Linked DNA regions of Homo sapiens: region 1 is linked to region 2. Evidence: fine-mapped expression QTL. Tissue or cell type: whole blood. Region 2 holds a variant in brackets; the other region holds the start of a gene. All regions are shown on one strand. Distances are between the middles of the regions. Region 1 holds the start of MARCKS (myristoylated alanine rich protein kinase C substrate). Region 2 has its middle 52 kb from the start of LINC02518.

Region 1 (2,918 bases), 370 kb before region 2:
TCACAGCACTCGAGCCAGGAGCGCCCGCGCGGGGCCCTCCGAGCTCCTGCGCCCACCCAGGCCTTTGGCACCGGCAGGGGGCGCTGTGCCTCCACCGCGCCGCGTTGGGCGCAGGCAGGCGAGGAGGGGCGGAGTCGCCGGGCCACCCCGCCCTGCCCAGCCGGGCCCTGCCCGCAGGCCGAGGCGCCCCCGAGCCCGGATCGCGCAGCCCAACAGTCCGCAAACAAAGCTCAGGTGGTTTCCTGGCCTGCCGGTCGGGCTGAAACCAACAAGGCAGGGGGAAACCCATTATTTCTGAGGTCTCGCCTCTGCTTCCACGCCCACCTTCCCCTGCGATTCTGCGAAGCCTGGGCGCGCCTCGGCGGCTCATTTTGCATTTTTAACGGGTTTAAAGCCTCTTGGCAGACCTCGCTTTCCCCAGTAGGTTAGAGCAGGCGAAGCGACACGATCTCTTCTCTAGGAAAAGAGGCGTGGTGGGTGCCCAGTGTTTGCGAAGCAGCCACCCATGGCCGACCTCTCGGGTCCACCCAATCGTGGCTATCTGCCTGGGTCCGGGCAGCGCCGGGCGGCCCCTCGCGGGTGGTCGAGGCGCCACGCACAAGAACAATCCCGACCGAAAGGCACGAACCGCCTCTTTTTGACCATCTGGAAAGGTTCTTAAAGGACCCACCGAGTGTTCCCACCCCACAGATACCATTTAAAAATCAAATGGATGTGTAATTCCACAGACAGCTACGAATAAAGATTTAGGACAGTGGGAAAGCCTCATCAAAAGGTACCGAAGCCCTCTGTCTGGCCCCAGCCAGCCACCTTTCCAAGAACCCAGGGCACGCCGCCGCGGCATACAATAAGACAGCCTTTCCCTCCTCGCCTTTCTCCACCACCATCCCCATTGCGCCCCCCTTTCCCGACTCCCCCCCCCGCCACACACAATCACACCACCAGTTCAGAAATCTCGAAGACAATCCAGCTTCGACAACAAACCCGAGAGACACCCAAACACCATTGTGCCCCCAAACACAAATGAAACCTGGCTGGGGGCGGGGGAAGGAGGGCACCTAGCTAGTCACGTTCTGCCAATCTCCAAACCACGCCATTTTAGACGATTTATCACTCCTTTCCTCCCGTCTACTCAAGAATTCTCCAGGATTCTAAGGAACCACTCCTTTGGTGTGGGGGGACCCCGGCTATGAAAAATCCACAATTTAGGCTATCCATTTCCATTCAACTTTCAGACTAGAATCCAGCCACACTCCTCTCCACGAATGAGCCTTGGGAGCCACCAGGAGGGAAGGAGAGAAAGACACGAAATAAATGACCACAACCACAGGTAGAATTTACCTGTCCGTTCGCTTTGGAAGGCGACGAGGCCACAGCCGCCTCCCCAGGCCTCTCCGCGGCGGCTTCTCCCTTCGCTGCGGTCTTGGAGAACTGGGCACCCATGCTGGCTTCTTCAACAAAGAAACTCAACAGATCCAAGAGGGGAAACAAAGAGCCTCGGGTTGGTGTAACGACGGGGCGAGCAGCAGCAGCAGCGGCGGCGGCAACAGCGGCAGCGGCACACACACCGGAGGGAGGGGGGTGGGGGTGGTGGAGAGGACAGAACAGAACCGATTAAATACACTCCGGATAAAAAAATTTTAGTCGAAGAGATCAAAAAGCAGCAGCACAGGAGGGAGGGAAAAAGGGTGGAAAAGTCGAGCACAAAAAAAGGAGCCCAAGTGTAGTTCGAAAAAAAAAGAAGTAATAAAAAAATCCCAGATTTGTAGCCGCACTGTAGACAAGAGGAAAATGGAGAAATCTCCCTGGTTGCTAATAAGATGCGGGGTCCAACGCCCAAGTGCACAGATGAATGGGCTCGCGGGCGCTGACGCGGCCCCCGCGCGCGTCGGCCAATCCGCGCGCCGCACACAAAGCAGGGGGCGGGGTCTGCGCGCCTGGCGAACAATGGAGCCGCGCTTTGCAAACGGTTTGAAAATCAGCCTCAGACCGAGAATTAATGTCCTCCAAATAAATAAATCAATTAAAAAATACATGGCACTCGTCTCTCTCTGCTTGAAAATAATAATGCATTTCTTGATTGGCTTGCTTTGTTTGGAATTAATTAACACGGGAGGGGGGTACTTGTGCATCGGGGCGGAGAAAGCGTTAACTTGACTCGCATTGACTCTCGTCGGTCTATATCCGTGTGTCTCTCTCTCTCCACTCGCTCCCCTCCCCCATCTTTCCGTGTGTTTATGTGTATGTGTGTGTATGCGAGTGTTAAAGACAATGGTTGCGATTTGTGTGTTTGCAGCATGTTTTCTTTCTTTTTTCCATATTGGTTTTACAGATAATGCTCAGGGTTTGTTTTTTGAACTGCTGCAATGGTTAAATCGTCCCAAATTGAAAGGTATTTAAACCACGAAGATCGAATTTCATCAAGCGAGATCGCAAGTTAGAATTAGGTCTGTAGGCCAGATGTGGAAAATGCAAAAGCGGCAAACAGCGAAGCCACACTCCCTTCCCTCTCCCACATTGGCATGAAATAAAATATTTTGAGATTGGCCTTGGGCGCTCAACAAATTCCCCCTTCTCTGGCTATTCCCAATTAGTGATTTTTTTCCCCCACAATTCAAAGTGAGAGCCATTTACAGAAGATCGAAACTCTTCGCGTTTTATCACTGTTTTAAATGACATAATTTTCCTCTATGGTGAAATGAGACACAGCCTCGAGTAGACGAATCCATATTTACAGTTGGGATGTTATTCGCGTCAATATGGATCGTTTTCAGCCTACTGCCAGAATCGAATGGACTCTTTTTGAACGTGTGTGTGAGTGCGCACGCAGGCGAATGTGCTCCTGAAAGGAAGGGAGGCAGCAGCAACGATGACATTCTAAACCGGATTGCAGTTCTAAGGAGAAATGTTCTGTATGT
Region 2 (2,918 bases):
TAGTCTTGTCCTCCTGATTATTTATGTTGTTCCATTATAGGTTTTTTGTTGTTTTTGTTTTGTTTTGCAATTAATGTAACACAGTACTGAACATCTTTGCATGTGTATATTTGTTTGCATGTGGAATTATTTATTAAGGCTAAGGTTCTAAAAGAATAATTAGGTCAAAGAATGTTTCTTTTTAAAGTACTGGATCTATATTACCAGTTGTTTTTTTATTTTTTTTCTGAAAGTTTTGACTATTTTGACAAACATTTCTTATTTTCTTATTTCCTTTTTTTTTTTTTTTGAGACAGTCGCACTCTGTTGCCAGGTTGCAGTGCAGTGGCACAATCTCGGCTCACTGCAACTCCACCTCCCGGGTTCAAGCAATTCTCCTGTCTCAGCTTCCTGAGTAGCTGGGACTATAGGCACTTGCCACCACGCCCAGGTAATTTTTGTATTTTTAGTAGAGACGGGGTTTCACCATGTTGGCCAGGATGGTCTCAATCTCTTGACCTCGTGATCCGCCCGCCTCGGCCTTCCAAAGTGCTGGGATTACAGGTGTGAGCCACCGTGCCCGGCCACATTTCTTATTTCTTCCCATATGCGTAATAGTAGTGGATGGGGTTAGGAGTAGGTAGGGATGAGGTACTGATGATGTGATGTAAGCATGAACAAAACCCTTAAAGAAGATCTGACCTAGAGAAGAAAAGAAGACAGACAATTAATAAAGGGCGTTGTGGCAAGAATGGAGGGTAGGCTAAAGCTAACAGCAGTCAGATTACTAAATGGAAACAGTAGTATTCTAAAATCCTAGCCCAGAGGGATCATGCCTGGCTTTGTGTGGTGGTTGGTTTGGAGGGCAGGAAACAGACTAGTCCATGGGTTTAGGCATGTGTGGGTCTTTCCCAAGATCACAGAGCTAGTCCAGGACCTAGTATTTGAGTCTGCTGATCTCATAGTAAATGCACTTTGCACCACACTACAGTGCTTCTCAAGTCAAGGCATATTCATGGACATTAAAGAGTCAAAATACCACTCCGGGCATGGTGCAATGAAGTGATGAAATGCATGACACAGG[T/C]ACGTGCTTCCTGAGGCAATGGCTGTCTACCTAGGCACTCAGAGTCAGATCAGGTGGATTTCAAAACAATTACTGAAAATTAGTTCTTTCTCAGTCCCCATGACTTCCTGCCAGTTGGTTCACTGTCTTCTGCTAACCTTCTCCAAATTATCCCTGTGGGGGTTCTAGTAGGCCACTGTATTCTCAAAACTGATATTTTTCTTGATGTTTGCTTCCCGCTGCCCTCCAACAAGTGTTTTGGATATGCCTTCTCATGCCCAATGAACATTTGGCATTTATTAGTTTTTTTAAATGAGCATTACCTTGCACTAGCACTATTCTAGCTCCTGGAATAGAGCTGTGAGCATAAAGGCAGGAATCTTTTCACAGGGTGTTTACATTTTAGTGAGGAAAGACAGATAAAAATCAGGAAAATTAATAAACACAGTAATTTCAGAGAAGGATATATATTATAAAGATAGTATAGCAGGATGATGTGATAGTGATGGGAGATGGACCATATTTTGGTTGATAGACAAGGAAGGACTTTTTGAGGCTATATCTTTTTTTGATGCTGAGAAAACATTTGCTGAATTAATTTATTACATAAGCCTATTAAATATATCTATAAAATCTGGAAACAGAGGCAAAACGATATAACAGCTGGTTTGTTGATTCTACACAATGATACCGACTAATACAAAATAATGCAATATATAATAAAAATATGCAATATGTAACATGTATCAGTGTGCTGCTTCTCCTTAGCAGTGCATGATTCCATGTATCATACAAAATTGCAATGAATATGGCACATTAAAGCAGAATTTCCATCTATTCCTGCATACAATTAGTATTAGTCTGTGATATTGCCTCCTATGATTTTTTGTTTTTCTTTTCTTTTTTTTAATTTGTATAAATTGAAGGGGTATAAGCAGGGTTTTGTTACATGTATATATTGCACAGTGGTGAAGCCTGACCTTTTGGTGCAAACATTACCTGAATAGTGTACATTGTACCCATTAAGTAATTTCTCATCCCTTACCTTGCTTCTGCCCAGGCCATACCTTTGAGCTGACTGGAACTGCAAGAAAGAACTAACCTTAGGAAGACTGGGATAGAATGTTCTGTACAGTGGAAACAACAAGTAGAAAGGTTCTGAATCAGGAAAAAGGTTGGTGTGTTTAAGAAATAGCAAGAATGGCCAGGCACGGTGGCTCACGCCTATACTCCCAGCACTTTGGGAAGCTGAGGCAGGTGGATCACCTGAGATCAGGAGTTTGAGATCAGCCTGGCAAACATCGCAAAACCCCATCTCTACTAAAAATACAAAAATTAGCTGGGTGTGGTGGCGCATGCCTGTAATCCTAGCTACTTGGGAGGATGAGACAGGAGAATCGCTTGAACCTGGGAGGTGGAGGTTACAGTGAGCCGAGATCATGCCACTGCACTCTAGCCTGGGCGACAGAGCATGACTCTGTCTCAAAAAAAAAAAAAAAAAAAAAAAGAGACCGGGCGCAGTGGCTCATGCCTGTAATGGCAGCACTTTGGGAGGCTGAGTTGGGTGGATCACGAGGAGTTCAAGACCAGCCTGGCCAAGATGGTGAAAACTGTCTCCACTAAAAATACAAAAATTATCTGGCCGTGGTGGCGGGCTCCTGTCATCCCAGCTACTTGGGAGGTTGAGGCAGGAGAATCTCTTGAACCCGGGTGGCAGAGGTTGCAGTGAGCCAAGATCACACCAATGCACTCCAGCCTGTGTGACAGAGCAAGACTCTGACTCCCAAAAAAAAGAATGAAAGAAATAGCAAGAAGGCCTCTGTGGCTGGAAGCTGGTAAGGGACAAAAGATAACCTTAGAAGCACAGGGGCCAGGC

Evidence for each region. PIP is the estimated chance that this variant, and not a neighbour inherited with it, causes the effect.
Region 1: MARCKS starts here. The variant in region 2 is fine-mapped to the expression of MARCKS in whole blood (TOPMed, PIP above 0.99).

Annotation. Positions count from the first base shown.
Region 1 is chr6:113,856,271-113,859,188 of GRCh38, reverse strand. It overlaps MARCKS (myristoylated alanine rich protein kinase C substrate), which reads right to left and starts at 1,844. Exons shown (of 2, transcript NM_002356.7): 1 at 1,342-1,844. The coding sequence starts at 1,443. RefSeq lists a silencer at 1-297 and enhancers at 1,763-1,812, 1,600-2,143, 2,144-2,689.
Region 2 is chr6:113,484,485-113,487,402 of GRCh38, reverse strand. No RefSeq gene overlaps it. Among named protein-coding and RNA genes, the nearest start is that of LINC02518, 52 kb to the right of the region's middle. The variant T/C (reference allele first, on the strand shown) is at 1,064.